Linked DNA regions of Homo sapiens: region 1 is linked to region 2. A link means that fine-mapping ties the variant in region 2 to the expression of a gene that starts in the linked region. Tissue or cell type: whole blood. Region 2 holds a variant in brackets; the other region holds the start of a gene. All regions are shown on one strand. Distances are from middle to middle.

What was found. PIP is the estimated chance that this variant, and not a neighbour inherited with it, causes the effect.
Region 1: it holds the start of CLK4, and the variant in region 2 is fine-mapped to the expression of CLK4 in whole blood (TOPMed, PIP above 0.99).

What each region holds. Positions count from the first base shown.
Region 1 is chr5:178,622,220-178,630,403 of GRCh38, reverse strand. CLK4 (CDC like kinase 4) reads left to right here and starts at 3,354. Exons shown (of 13, transcript NM_020666.3): 1 at 3,354-3,458; 2 at 6,988-7,148. The coding sequence starts at 6,988. RefSeq lists enhancers at 1-318, 3,386-3,995, 3,728-4,408.
Region 2 is chr5:178,684,054-178,692,237 of GRCh38, reverse strand. It overlaps a transcript of MSANTD5 not described here. Among named protein-coding and RNA genes, the nearest start is that of MSANTD5, 9.6 kb to the left of the region's middle. The variant C/G (reference allele first, on the strand shown) is at 4,727.

The sequences.
Region 1 (8,184 bases), 62 kb after region 2:
GGATTCAGATGATTAAATGAGATCATGTATATGAAGTGGTTAGCATAGAATGAGCATTTGATAGCTAAAAGCAAGTCTAATTAGTAAGTATCAGTAACCAGCAGCTAATAACAGAGGCTATAACTGCAAAGGTTTATACCTTTGTAAAGGTTACTCTATACGGTAATAAGCTTTTGTTTAATTTACACAATAATTTAGACTTTTACTCTAAAACCTGGCTCTCATATATGAGTGTTTTTGATGTCTGAAGTTAAGCATGTCGTATACATATCCTAGAATATGTGATAAGAATATTCCTTTGGTTGCTCTTCAAAGCTAAAAATTTCTTTTTTTTTTTTTTTTGAGACAGAGTCTTACTGTTACCCAGGCTGGAGTGCAGCGGCACGATCTCAGCTCACTGCAGCCCCGCCTCCTGGGTTCAAGCGATTCTTCTGCCTCAGCCTCCTAAGTAGCTGGGGGTACAGGCACCCGCCACCATGCCCAGCTAATTTTTGTATTTTTAGTAGAGACGGGGTTTCACCATATTGGCCAGGCTGGTCTCGAACTCCTGACCTCATGATCCGCCTGCCTCGGTCTCCCAAAGTGCTGGGATTACAGGCGTGAGCCACCGTGCCCAGCCAAAAAAATTCTTAAACTAGTTCTTTTTGTTTTTGCTTTTGAGACAGGGTTTGGCTCTGTCACCCAGGCTGGAGTGCAGTTGCACGATCTTGGCTCACTGCAACCTCTGCCTCCTGGGCTCAAACCATCCTCCCACCTCAGCCTCCCGAGTAGCTGGGACCACAGCCATGCACCACCATGTCCAGCCAATTTTTTTTCTGTATTTTTTGTAGAGATGGGATTTCACCATGTTGGCCAGGCTAGTCTTGAAATCCCAGGCTCAAGTGATCCACCCACCTCTGCCTGCAACCTGAGATTACAGGCGTGAGCCACTGTGCCCAGCCTTTGACTAGCTGCTTGGACACATCAGTTAACTCAAAGGTTTTTTTGGACATACTGTTCTTGTGTAGAGATGAAACCACTGGATTAGGCAGTGTTTCTGGTATTGGTAGTAGATTCTCAGAAATTTAGATAAACCTTTTCATTAAGTCTTGCCAGGTAACTGACTTAATAGGAAGGGTTGAGGCTGCCACGAAAGGGTGGTAAGCTAACTGGTGCAGTGATGCTGGGATGAAATGTCTACCTTTAACTTACTCACTTTGACCTTAAACCAACTGAGCAAAATGGCCCAAAGCAGCTTATGTAAACAACCTACAAATATTTACTGGGTTCTAGGCCTGAGATACCAAAGACAATATAAATCAGGTCCTTGTCTCCAAACTCAGCACAAAGCCACAGAGAGTGACTAGGGGCACCATAGTGCTGCATCACATAGCATAGAGGTGCTAGTCATTCTCAGCTTCCTTCTGATCACTACACACTTTTAAACATTAGACCTTTTGGTGGCATACAAATTAAAACACTAAAGCGAGATGAATGTAATTACAAAGCAGACTCTACTATTGGGTAACAGTGTGTGTGACGTCTATAATATAAAGGCCTCTGTAGGTGGCATTTCAAGTGGCTGCTTTTTAACATAGTGTTGCTTTTTTGAGCAGAATTGTGGGCTGTCCTGACCACACTTTCTTATAACCCCAGGAGGCAGGATCTCTCCTACTCCATGAAACAGGAGAACATTCTTTGGTGCCAGCTTGAATTTACATTCTCATATGCTGCAATTTGAGCCCCACTCTACCTTGTATTATCGCCCAGACCAGTCAGCTCAACATTCTATCTAATAGATTCCCTTGAGACGGGATGTGTAATCAATTGTAGAACCAATACATTTCACTCTTTGGGCAAAATCTGTTAGCATACCAGGTGGCTCCAAATACTCCACTATTTGAGGACTTCACATCTAACTGGAGTAGTCAGGAGCCGGGAAATGGGTGGGAACTCATGTCAGAGACAGCATCTTAAAGAAATGGCCTTTCAAGGATGAGTAAGATTTAAATTTGTAGATGCAAAAATGGTGGCTATTCTAGATGAAAATAATATCATTTGTTTCATTCTGTAGCATAAAGAGTTTACCCTTCCAGTTTTCCAAGTTTCTTTTCAACTTCGCTTCTTGGAGTGCAATCTCCATGAAAATTCAACTTACTTTTTGAAATGCTGTACAATCTCCGAGATTTATCTAAATTTACCCTACTTACCCAAACCAGATGGCACAAGTTTCTATCATGTTAGATCACTAAAGGTATTTCCGTTCCCTCCTTTCACCTAACAGGATAACAGGTCTCCCACATGCTACTGGGCTAATACCCGCAAGAGTTCAACCCTACCCTCCCAAATTTGATTTCTAGCTTTCCCTTTTATCCAGCGAATCCCCGTCAGAATACAGAAGCCAACCCCCACCCCGCCCGCCGTCCCCCCCCACGATCTTCAGTCTCACCTAAACCCTTTCCCTCACTTACGCCCTTCCTTGCTTTGACACCCTATTCTTGGTTCTCCTCCTCTGCTGATCATTCCTTCTCAGGCCCCTTTCCCTCTGGCCCTTGAGTGTTCCCCACAGGGCTCCGACTTTGACCCTAATATTTCTCATGTTACATACTTACACGGGGGAACTGCCTGAGGGTCCTCAGAACTGCAGAATACCTTATTTGAGGTAAGCAAGCCCCATAACGGACTATCACTAGCTCAGAGACATTTTTCAGCCTTGAATAAAATCAGCCCGCAGGGACAAAAAAAAATGGGGAAAACTTCGTTAGGGAAACTTCCAGCGACCTTAACTGCTCAGGAGGTAGGGATCCTAACAGGAAAACCTTGTCAGGAGTCTCCATTGAAACCTCCGGGTTTTTGTTTTGTTCTGAATAGGAGCACGTGCCTTGAAAAGATTAGCACCCCTTGAGCTTGTTTTCTGAGACAGCCTCTTTGTCCGAATCCACCTTAGACTGGAAGCGCCAAGTGGGCAGGACAAGCACCCAGTCCAGGGAACAGCCCAGGGACCAGCCAAGGCCCGCCCTAGGCGGTTTTGGGGCCGTTGTCGGGTGCCGGCTGCGGGAGTTGAGGTCCCGGGGGAGGGGGCAGACACGCGGTACACACTGAGGGCGGGACACGGGCGTTCCTTCCCGGTTCCACCCGAGCCCGTAGAGAACGTAAACACCCTCCCGGCCTAGAGGCCCCGGGACCGGGTGGGCGGGGGGGGGGGGGTGGAAATGCTTGGGCCGCGCAGCCGCAGTGTGGAGGCTCGAGCCCCGCTCTTACGTCACGTGGAGCCCCGCCCTTAGGTGGAGCGGCGGGAGCGCGCAAGGTTCTGTCACGCAGGCGCGTTCGCGCGGCGTAGGTGGTGCTAGAGGCGACTCGGGGGATTCTAGGGCGACGGCGCTGCCGCCATTTTGTGGGGTGTTTGTCGCAGCGGCCGAGGAGGGAAGACGGCAGTTTGGCGACATTTCTCGGCCGAAGGGCCATTTGCTTTTGCGGAGGTAGGGTTGCAGATGGTGTGTGCTGGGACAGGCGGCTGTCGGTCTTTAGGTCTCCGAGCCAGGTGTCGGAGAAACGACCGCGTTAGGGGCCTGGGCTTCTGGAGCTGAGTTGGGAGTTCTGCGAGGCGCTGCTCGGCTGGTGCACGCCGGCAGCACCGAAAGTTGCTCGGGCGTCGCGGTTCTGCCGCTGACCCTTCTCTGAGGGCCCTGGCCGCTCGCGTCGCGGCTCCGGAGGCCGTGGGCTCGCGGTCCCCTGCTGCCTGGCGAGCGCGGCTGTTGGTTAACCCTGTCGGGACCTCTTCCAGCCGGCGGGCGCTAGGACCTGTCGGGAGACCCTTCGAGAGCCGTCTCTGGCATTCGTGTTGTCGGAGATCAAGTCTTCCCCTGGATTCCTGGCCTGGGCCGTTTGTAGCGTTTCGGGGGTTTTCCAGAGTCAAGCATTTGCCCCTGTCTTGAGTGCGCCAAAGGCACTGGCCGGGTGCCCAGGAGCCGGGAGGTGGGGACCGGGCGTCCGTGCAAATCCAGGTGGTTGAGGGCAGTAGCTGCTTGTGAGAGGTGGAAATTTGCGGAGGCTAGTCCTCTGTGCTATGCTGAACACAACATTGTTGCAGCGAACCTGCGTTTCTGGTGGTTTTGCATCTTATTATCCCTGGTTGCCTAAATAGTCCAGATAGGCTTATCCGATCCTTAGGAAACCGCCCCGCAAACTGAACTCGCCAGCCACTTTGTCTTGCCTCATAGCTGTCCTGTGCGATTGTGCTTTTTACACACCCCTACAGGCTTGTAACCCATTAAATGCAGTCCTCTTGGAGCCATCCAATCCTAAACTTATAACCTGTTTCGATGTTTTTAAGCCATGTACGTAGCGTAAAGTTGTCAAGAACTACAGGATCTTAAGGGCAGTGGCGATGGATCTACATATGAGATCCATTGTGTCATTATTTTTTGAAAGATACCTACTCTAGCATGTGGGATGCTTTATTAGAGGCAGTGTCATGATTCTAGATAGCTTTTCTTTTTTATGTATGCGAAGGAACCTTACCACGTAGAACGTGGGTCGGGTGATCTTTGTGCCTCCAGATAAAATATTTTTGAACATTGCAGGGTGAGTGGGGGAGGTCAGAGGCTGGGACTAACAGCTGAATTACATTTGAAGTAGTGAACTTGAGAAGAATTTTGGACTCTCACAACGGAGCTCGTTCTTATTTTAATGTTTGCATATTAACTGATAATTTGAGAGTTCTGTTTTGCTGGAGGTTAGCTGGTTGTAAGCAGACTTACAGTAGAAGAGGAAAAAACAAAACTGAAGAAGATACATAAGTCTTGAAAAAAACTTCATAGTAATGGAGGGTCATAATAATAACGCTCGGTCATCAGATGTGATTTTGCTTGCTATGATTTAAAAATGCTTAACCAAGCTGAGTTCCTGATGTGGTTAAAATACAACTTTGGTATTTGACGGAACGCTTCAGAAGAACTGCACTTGAAATACACATTTTCTTTTTTTTTTTTTTTTTTTTTTTGAGACAGGGTCTCACTGTCGCCCATACTGGTATGCAATGGCGTGATCATGGCTCACTGCAGCCTTGACTTCCTTGGGCTCCAGTGATTGTCCCAGTAGGTGGGACTACAGGCTCGAGTCACCATGTGCGGCTAATTTTTTGTATTTTTTGTAAAGGCAGGGTTTCGCCGTGTTGCCCAGGCCAGTCTCGAATTCCTGGGCTCAAGGGATGAGGCGCCACTGCGTCCAGCCATAAATTTTTCTTGATAGCTCTAATGAAGAAAGTTTGTGTTTTGGCCTTTTGCCTCAAGTAAATGTGTGCTGTTATTCATGTCACGTTCCCATATGGAAGTGACTCCATTTGTATCAAACCGGAATGCTCACTTCCATTGAGACGCTAACAAGAGTTTTAGAATTGCTGTTTGGCCTGATCAGTGCCTTCTCTTCCTCTGTAAAGTGAGCTGAGAGCCACCTTAGAAGGATGCTTGATGGGTATAGAATTAGAATCAGCAAGAGAGTGAATTAAAATATCTGACTATCTGGTGGCAATCAGACTCTGATGGCGTGACACATACTTTCTTGTGGAATACCTCCCAGAAGAATTGAAGCTGCCTCACTCCAAAACCTTTAATCCATTTAAAATCATTTAAATTTCTGCTTGCATTTGTTTGCTTATTAGTCATTTGGGCAAGCTGAATGAGGTTAACTGAGTGGGTTTTACTCCATTTTAGCTTTTTTCAGCTCCTTGCTGAATTGTGAAATTCTTCTCTTTTTACCATTTAAACTCACCCTGTTTAGGAGAATTTGGACCTGACTGTTAAAACTTAACTGTTTTGGAAAATAATTAAGATGGGGAGAGACAGATAGGGGTTATATTGTTTGAGCGCAGATGCTGAGCCTGGAAGGAACCCAGGTTATGCACTGGAGTTTGTAAATAAAGTCAGCTGTCACCGTTATCGTTTGCTTTCACTGTGACCATGCTTCAGTGTGCATCCTTGTAGGTTGAGTTCTTTTTCAGAGTTACTCCAGATTTACTACAAATAGATTTTAAGGTTAAGAATAACTGCTGGATAAGAAAATGAACTTGTTGGATAGAGAAAATGAGTTCATAAAATCACATAAACATTTAAAAAAATTTTTTTTGTAGAGACAGTTTCACTATGTGTAGCGCAGGCTGGTCTCAGACTCCTGGGCTTGGCCTCCCAAAATTCTGGGATTACAGGCATGAGCCACCGTACCCGGCCTAAAATCACCTTTTTATATCTCTTCAGTTTCTCTGTTGAATATTGTGTTCTATCCACACAGAACTAATATTCTCAAAGCTTAGAGTCATTCTGAGATTTAGAGAAAAGAACTATGGAGAATTTGAGAAAAAGAAGCTTCATCATTGAATAGCTCTTTACCATTAAAACAAAGTCACCTCCCATATTTAGTATCCCTAAGTGTTTTTGTCTTGCACTTCAGTTATTTGTATTACAGTACTTTGCCAAAGCTGCATGACACTGATATTATTTCTCCTTAAATCAGCTCACATTTTAATGTTAACATTTTTAAAAGAAAATATGTCAATAACTTAATTGGAAAATCACTAATAAGTAGAAAGTAACAAAATAAGATAAATAAAAACGTTACTAATTTTTAGCTAAATACTCTTGTCTGCTGGAAACACTAGGCCTGAACCTTTTTATTTGCCCCCCCCGGCTTTTTTTTAATTTTTAAAAAGGCAGTTAGCAAGTGTTAGTTGAAGACAAGCACCAAGCTGAGAATTTGTCCTGGCTGTAATCAGAATTCAAAAAAAAAAAATGTCTTAAGGTATCAGTATTACCCACAATTTAATACTAGATCTCTATGCCTCTTAGCAGTCATCTGACATACCAGTGCCTTGGGAAGCATTACCACCTAAAAAGATTTTGGAGCCTGTAAGACCCTGTGTGTTGGGTTTTGATAACTTAAATAATATTAATATATAATAATTTACCTATCACACATCTGTAACCTCCACAATTCCCTTTTCATTTCTATCAACAGATGCGGCATTCCAAAAGAACTCACTGTCCTGATTGGGATAGCAGAGAAAGCTGGGGACATGAAAGCTATCGTGGAAGTCACAAGCGGAAGAGGAGATCTCATAGTAGCACACAAGAGAACAGGCATTGTAAACCACATCACCAGTTTAAAGAATCTGATTGGTAAATTAACTCTTGAACTACTAGCATTTTAGCTCTAATAGTTTTAAATGATTTGTCATTTGCTTATATAGCTTTCATCTGTCAAATTGTTTTATAATTCAGTCAACAAATATTCGTTTAGAAAATATTTGAGTACTTATTTTAGATAGGCGCTGAGGCTACAGCTGTAAATAAAACAAAGTTCTTATCCTTATGTATGTCTGTCTGCCTGGGAGTGGTAGGAGACAGTTGATCAGTAAGTGAATGTGAAATGTATTAAATAACATGGTGAGTCCCAACTGCCAGTAACGTGATTAGGGAGATGACACACAAAAAGTTAAGTAATAGTGATAGAATGCCCAATGAGTACCTTTAACTTGTATGTAGGAGGGAGATGGGTATGTTGTAGTGCTCATTGTTTCAGAAATAAGGTAGGGTTTTATAGGGGAGGAGTTATTCCAACAGAGAAAAGCAGCATGTATTATTAGTCACTTATACCATGTCGTACAGGTTATATTTGTAGATGAGGCCAAGGGATATGTTTGGGATTTTTAGAAGCTGGCTTTATTTAAGAACTATTCTTTTGCATAGGTAGTAGCTAGTAATTTGGGAAATGGCCTCAATAAAAACTTGCAACAGCATGTGTGCTGTTTTATTGTATTCTTACCAGTGTACAATTTGGAGGTAATATATTTATATAGAATTAAAGGAATCTTAAAGTTCTAAATGATTAAAGAAAGGCTAGGTAAGTTTTCACTCTTTCATTAATTTCCCTTTTTCGTTTGTTTTGTTGGTTCTGTTTTCTCGTTTTGTGCAGATGTTCCATTGGGACTGTTTACCAGATTGCTTTCTAAATTAGCCAGCTGGGGTTACTTTAAAAAACAGTATGTAATTTCTTTCCTTCTCCACGTTAACAGACTTGTTCTGCCAAACAGCTTATTTGTAGTCAGTGCAGACAAATCATGCTTCATACGCATTGTTATATAAGGGGAAGGGGGAAGGTTTATGACAGGATTTCAGAGACCAGAGATAATTAATAATTAATGTACAGTACACT
Region 2 (8,184 bases):
TAGCTAATTTTTGTATTTTTAGTAGAGAGAGGGTTTCACCATATTGGCCAGGCTTGTCTCGAACTCTTGAGCTCAGGTGGTCCACCCACCTCGGCCTCCCAAAGTGCTGGGATTACAGGCATGAGCCACAGCGCCTGGCCTAATTTTTTTTTTTTTTTTTTTTTTAGAAACTGCCAAACTCTTTACCAGATGGCCGTGTCATTCTACATCCCCACCAGCAATGTATGAGTGAACCAGTTTCTCCATATCCTCACCAGCATTTTGTTTTGTCACTATTCATTAAAAGGCGAATAGAATGGCCTTCAGAGTGTCCATCGCAGAGGGCCTTAGCAGAGCTTAGAATGATGGGACTGGCCTCTGCCCAGGGCCCCTCTGCACAGCATGACAAAGCGGTGATATCTACTTATGGCTTCCATTTTCAGTTCCCTGGCGGCTGATGATACGGAGCATGTTGTATGCCTATTTGCCATCTGCATATCCTCTGCAGTGACATGGCTCTTCATGGTTTTGGCCATTTTCTAATTGGATTTTTGTTTTTACTGTTATTATTTGAGAGTTTTTTAAAATATATTCTAGATATTCGTTTTATGGGATATGGGTGTTGCAGATACTTTCTCCCTGTTTGTAGCTTGTCTTTTCATGCCCTTCTTATGGGCTTTCACAGAGAAAAGACTTTGTGAGGTACAATTTACCAACATTTTAATGGGTAGTGCTTTGGGTGTCAAATCTAAGAACCCTTTGGTTAGTCCTAGATCCTGAAGACTTTTTCCTATATTTTTCTTTTTCTTTTTCTTTTCTTTCTTTTTTTTTTTTTTTTTTGAGATGGAGTCTTGCTCTGTCTCCCAGGCTGGAGTGGTGCAGTGGCATGATCTTGGCTCACTGCAAGCTCCGCCTCCTGGGTTCACGCCATTCTCCTGCCTCAGCCTCCCGAGTAGCTGGGACTACAGGCGCCCGCCACCACGCCTGGCTAATTTTTTGTATTTTTAGTAGAGACGGGGTTTCGCCGTGTTAGCCTGGATGGTCTTGACCTCCTGACCTCGTGATCCACCTGCCTCGGCCTCCCAAAGTGCTGGGATTACAGGCTTGAGCCACTGTGCCCGGCTGACTTTTTCCTATATTTTTCTTAAAGTTTTATAGTTTTACATTTTGCATTTAAGTCCCTGGTACATTTGAGTTAAATTGTGATTAAGGTTTGTGAAGTTTAGGTTAAGGTTCATTTTGTGTGTATGTGCCTGTGAATGTCCAGTTGCTCTTCTCTGAAGAGGCTATCTTTTCTGCGTTGAATTTCTTTTGCATTTTTGTGACAAATTAGGTGGGCATATTTGTGTGGTTCTTGTCATGGGTTCTCTACCTTGTTCCATTGGTCTGCACTCTGCTAATATCACACACCCTTGTTTACTATAGCTGTATAAGTTATTAAATCATATAAATTAATTCTTCCTACTTTGTTCTTTGATTGATTTTTCAAACATTGAACCAGCCTCATATCTCTGGAGTACATCAATTGTCCATCATATAATTTTTTCATCTATTATTGATGTATTAGTAATGTTTTATTAATGATTTCTGCATCAGTATTCAAGAAAGATGCTGTTTTACAGTTTTGTTGTACTGTCTTTTTCTGGTTTTGGTATCAGGATAATACTAGCTTCATAAAGTCCATTTGCAAGTGAAATAAGCTAGCCACAGGAAGATAAATACTGCATGCTCTCACTTATATGTGGAATCTAAAATAGTCAGACTCATAGAAGAGAGTAGAATGGTGGTTTCCAGGGCTGGAGGGAGGGAGAAGTGGGGGGATGGGGGGATGCTGGTCATGAGTGTAAATTTCCGGTTACTCAAGATGAGTAAGTTCTGGAGATGGAATGTACAGCATGGTGACTATAGTTAACACTATTGTATTTTATACCTGAAATTTGTTTAGAGGGTAGATCTTAAGTGTTCTCATCTTACACACACACACAAAGGTTAACTATGTGAGGCGATAAATATGTTAACTGACTTGACTATGGTGCTCATTGCACAATATATACATATATAAAAAATCAAGTTTTAAAATCGATACCTTTTTTTGAGACGCAGTCTCGCTCTGTCACCCAGGCTGGAGTGCAGTGGCGCGATCTCGGCTCACTGCAAGCTCTGCCTCCTGGGTTCACACTGTGACATGGGGCTGGAGAGTTGATCTAAACTGAGGGAGGACAGTGAAGGTGTCCCTGGCCAGCTGAAGGCAAACTGCTTCAGGTGGGCCTTCTGGACAGGGATGGAGAAAAAGGTGTGTGTCAGATCAATAGTTACATACCATGTACCAGGATATGTGTTAATTTGCTCAAGCAATGAAACAGCATCTGGTACAGCAACTGCAATTAGAGTTATCACTTGGTTAAGCTTCTGGGAATCCACCATCATTCTCCAGGATTCATCTGTCTTCTGCACAGGCCAGGAGAGTTGGACAAGGATGTGGGGTAGGAATCACCACCCCTCCATACTTCAAGTCTTTGATGATGGCACTCATCTATATCATTCCTCCAGGAAGGCAGTATTGGTGTGTTTTTTGTTTTAGTATTTTTCTAGGTAGAGATGGCTGTAACGCCTTCCATTTGTCCTTTCCCATCACAATTGCCCTCACTTTATAGCTCAGGGAACCCGTGTGGAAACTCTGCTAGCTGCTGAACACGTCTGTTCCAACTACACATCTGGACCCGGGAAATGACCAGAGAATGGGTTCCGGGACCCGCTGGGCCCACGGTGAGTTGGACCTGAGTTAAAGCTCCTGGTACCAAGATATGGAAAAACCTCTTTGACTGTCTTATTTCACTGGAAAACAGTATGGAGTTTACTCAAAAAAATTAAAAATAGAACTACCACATAATTCAACAGTGCCACTTCTGGGTATGTATCCAGGATCTGGAAGAGAGATCTGCATCTCACGTTCATTGCAGCACTATTCACAGTAGCAAAGATACGGAAACAATCTAAGTGTCCACTGACAGGTGAATGGATAAAAAGAAAACTTGACACACATACACACACAGCGGAATATTATTCAGCCACTTTAAAAAAGAAGTCCTGCCTATCAACAACATAAATGAACCTAGAGGGCACTATACTCAGTGAAGTGTGACAGAGACAGACAAATACTGTATGGTATCACTTATATATGGAATCTAAAAAGAAGAAACATTTCCAACTCATAGAAGCAGAGAGCAGAGCAACCTGGTGGTTGCCGGGAAGGGAGGTGGGGGAGGAAATGGAGAGATCTTGATCAAAGTGTACAAACTTTCAGTTATAAGATGAAGGAATTCTAAAGATCTAATGTACAGCACGGTGAGCATAGTTAATAATACTATATTTTATACTGAAGCTTGCTAAGAGAGTAGATCTGAAGTGTTCTCACCGAAAAAGGGAGGGGGTAAGTGTGGGAAGTATTGGGTAAGTGCTGTGGTTTGGATATTTGCCTCCAAATCTCATAATGTGAAATGCAATCCCCAGTGTTGAAGGTAAGGGCTAGTAGGTGTTTGGGTCATGGGCGTGGATCCCTCATTAATGGCTTGGTGCTGTCCTTGAGGTCATGAGTGAGTTCTTACTCTATTAGTTACCAAGAGATCTGATTGTTTAAAAGGGCCTGGCATCTCTCTCTTGCCTCCTCTCTTGCCATGTGACATGCCTGCTCCCTTTTTGCCTTCCACCAACAGTAAAGCCTTCCTGAGGCCTCCCCGGACTCCCAGCAGTTACTGGTGCCGTGTTAGTGCAGGCTGCAGAACTGTGGGCCAAATAACCTGTTTTCTGTATAAATTACCCATCCTCAGGTATTCCTTTACAGCCATGCGAAACAGACTAATGCAGCATGCTAATTAACTTTATCATGGTAATAACTTTATTTTATTATTTATTTACTTAGAGTCTCATTTTGTCACCCACGCTGGAGTGCAGTGGCACCATCTCAGCTAACTGCAACTTCTGCCTCCCAGGTTCAAGCAATTCTCCCATCTCAGCTTCCTGAGTAGTAGCTGGGATTAAAGGCACATGCCACCACACCTGGCTAATTTTTTGTATTTTTTTGGAGAGATGGGGTTTCGCTGTGTTGCCCAGGCTGATCTCAAACTCCTGGCCTCAAGTAATCCTCCCGCTGTGGCCTCCCAAAGTGCCGGGATTACAGGTGTGAGCCACCAGGGCTGGCCAGGGTAATCATTTTAAAGTGTTAACATATGTGAAATCATCAGTTGTACACCTTAAATAGATACAATTTTCTGTCAATTATGCCTCAATAAATTGAAGAAAATAATTTTTTTCTGGATATATTTTCTGAAAACTAAAGTGATTTAAGTTACATAAACAGAAAATAGTATCAAACTGAAAATAGACCCAAATTTTAACAGTTTTTATTTTACTAGAAATAATACTCTTTAGTTTTTCATTTTGTTTTTATATGATCATATATTTCTTTCTTTTCTTTTTTTTTGAGACAAAGTCTCGCTCTGTCACCCAGGCTGGAGTGCAGTGGCGCGATCTCAGCTCACTGCAAGCTCCTCCCACGTTCACGCCATTCTCCTGCCTCAGTCTCCCGAGTAGCTGGGACTACAGGCGCCTGCCACCATGCCCGGCTAATTTTTTGTATTTTTAGTAGAGACGGGGCTTCACCATGTTAGCCAGGATGGTCTCTATCTCCTGACCTCATGATCTGCCCGCCTTGGCCTCCCAAAGTGCTGGGATTACAGGTGTGAGCCAC[C/G]GTGCCCGTCCATAATCATATATTTCTATCAAAGTAGAGGGAAATCCGGCCAGGTGCGGTGGCTCATACCTGTAATCCAAGCACTTTGGAAGGGCGAGGCAGGAGGATTAACTTGAGCTCAGGAATTCAAGACCAGCCTGGGCAACATGGTGAAACCCCGTCTCTTCTAAAAAATAAAAAAATTTAGCCAGGCGTGGTGGCGGGCACCTGTAATCCCAGTTACTCTGGAGGCAGAGGCGGGAGAATCGCTTGAAACCGGGAGGCGGAGGTTGCAGTGAGCTGAGATCAGGCCACTGCACTCCAGCCTGGGTGACAGAGAGTGAGAGCTTGTCTCAAAAAAAAAAAAAAAAATGTTGAGGGAAATCAAATATACTCAAAACCTTCTCTTGTAGCAGAGTTCATGAGAGGAAAAAAAAGAAAAAGAAATTTTTTTTTGCACAGAGTCTTGCTCTATCACCCAGGCTGGAGTGCAGTGGGGCGATCTCGGCTCACTGCAAGCTCCTCCTCCTGGGTTCACGCCATGCTCCTGCCTCAGCCTCCCGAGTAGCTGGGACTACAGGCGCCCGCCACCACGCCCGGCTAATTTTTTTGTATTTTTAGTAGAGACGGGGTTTCACCGTGTTCGCCAGGATGGTCTCGATCTCCTGACCTCGTGATCTGCCTGCCTCGGCCTCCCAAAGTGCTGGGATTACAGGCATGAGCCACTGCGCCTGGCCCAGAAAATGAAAAATTTTAAAAATTATCCTAGAAATTGTCAAATAGCTGATTTCAGACCAATTATCTTGCTAAAGAAACGTAGAAAAGTCAGTCAAAACAGAAAACATATATTTTTGAAGGAATTAAGGAGCTCTTAAGGCAGCCAAGACGTTGATGGGGCTTCTTTTTTTTTTTTTTTTGAGATGGAGTTTCGAGCCCAGACTGTAGTGCAGTGGCGTGATCTCAGCTCACTGCAACCTCCCTCCGCCTCCCAGGTTCAAGCGATTCTCCTGCCTCAGCCTCCGGAGTAGCTGGGATTACAGGCATGCACCACCATGCCCGGCTAATTTTGTATTTTCAGTAGAGACGGGGTTTCACCGTGTTAGCCAGGATGGTCTCGATCTCCTGACCTCGTGATCTGCCCGCCTCGGCCTCCCAGAGTGCTGGGATTACAGGCGTGAGCCGCCGCGCCCGGTCACGTGATGGGGCTTCCATCACAGACAGGAGGGAAGCCCTGAGAAGCCAGCCTGGCCTTTGGAGTGACTTCTCCCCTGTGAATATTTGCCGCTTGGAAAGCAGGAGCTGAGAGGCAGAAAATCTGTGCACAGTAGAGACAAAAGCCGGAGTTCAGGGGCCGATAACACCGCAGGTATTTAGCTGTGAGCCTTGTAGGTTTACACCCTAGCAGCAGGGCTGAGCTTGACATACAGTGAAGACCAATTTGGATCCAGCTCAATGAGTGATTGGATTAAGGTGGGCTACCTCTTGCCTATGTAGATAATTAACTAAATGTAAATGGACTGGGTATTCTTGGAAAGAGAAACTTTCAACTACATGCATATAGTAAGAAAATATATATGTGGCCTCTGCCCCAGTGTCCTGACGCACAACTTCTAAAGCCCTCGGAATCTCCAAAGCAATTTTGTATGCTAATGACATGACGGGTGGCTTGGGGCTCCTGGACGGCCTCAGGACAGGGGCTGATTGCCAAGGGAACCAACCTGGTGATTAGAGATTTGGAACTTTTTGGCCCATTCCCCAATCTCCAGGGAGCAGAGTTAATTACCAACAACCAATGATTTAATCAATCCTGCCAATATAATGAAGCTGTCATAGAAATCCTAAATGATAGGGCGTGGAGAGCTTCTGCTGGCTCCCCTCCGTCACCGACTTGCAGACTCCCAAGGAGGGAGAAGTATGCATCCCCGACCCATTGGCTTTGAGTTTGGCCACGAGACTTGGTTTGCCCAATGACTAGTAAGCAGATGTTATAGTCACTACTTCTGAAGAGAAGCTTTAAGAGCCAACGCCGTTGCTGCTTTCTCTCTGCCAGAGAATGACAGTTTGCTCATTCAGCGCAGGTACTGGAATACCTCAGACTGGGGTAAAGAAGACATGTGTGTTACACAGGAACGGAGCTGCAGCTCACAAGTAGCAGGTAAGAGAAATAAAACCTGTCTAACGTAAGCTGCTTAGACTCGGGACCGTTTGTGATTGCCGCAAAGCTAACTGATAGAACTTGCATGCAGTAATATGCAAACATAAGGCATTGCCTTTGGGTCCAGACAGCAGGTGGCTAAGAAACCTATTGGATGATATCAAGTTGACAACCCATGTCGTGTAGTGGGAAACCTTTTTGTAAAACTGTATCCTGCAATATTATAGAAGGCATGGACCTAAAAAGTTAGCTTTAAGTAAAGAGGCTGAGAAATACATGATTACTGGTGTGGTTTATTTATTTGTTTATTTATTTATTTATTTATTTATTTTTGAGACAGAGTCTGGCTTCATTGCCCAGGCTGGAGTGCAGAGGCACCATCTAGGGTCACTGTACCCTCCGCCTCCCTGGTTCAAGTTCAAGTCATTCTCCTGCCTCAGCCTCCCAAGTAGCTGGGACTACATGTGTGCGTCACCATGCCTGGCTAATTTTTTGTATTTTTAGTGGAGATGGGGTTTCACCATGTTGGCCAGGCTGGTCTTGGACTGCTGACCTCAGGTGATCTGCCCGCCTCGGCCTCCCAAAGTGCTAGGATTATAGGCGTGAGCCACCAAGCCTGGCCTTGTGTGGTTTATTTATTAGTTGGTTCTGCATTTGACAAGGAACTCTGAAGGAAAGATGAATCCAAAAAAATTTAGCAAGCAGGGATTAAAAAGAAATGAGAAGACCCAAATAATCTAGGACTGGCAAGTGTGAAAGATTCAAATGTTTCTCATTGTATAATATGTTTCTCAACTATGTAAGATAAAGCTGAAAATCTTTGCACGAAAAAGGCTAAACCACAATCATTAAGATGGACAAAATGATTCACTGGAAAGAAGCTAGGTCTGTAATCCCTCAGAAGTTTCTTAACCTCAAAGTATTAATACTAGCTGACATGGAAAATGAGCAATGAATCTTAGCTTTGAGATTTGGGGGATCTGATGAGCATAACCTAATCAAGGCAATAAAATGGATGAAATCTTTCAACCATTTACTATTCCAAGAGACGATCTTGACGACTTCTTTCTCTTCAGTCCCTCCACACTTCTTTACTGGATTTGGACTCACTTGATAACAGTGTTTTCTACTTCAGTGAAAAAGGGAAGAAATGAAAAGAGAACAAAACAGAATTTCTACAGCTCCTATTACCACATGGACACAAGTACCCACATCCTCATCCTTCCTGTTACCACAGATCTGTGCTCTTCTGTACAGTAACCACTAGCTGCAAATTTAAATTAATTACATTTTATAAAATTTAAAATTCATGTATTAAGTTGCA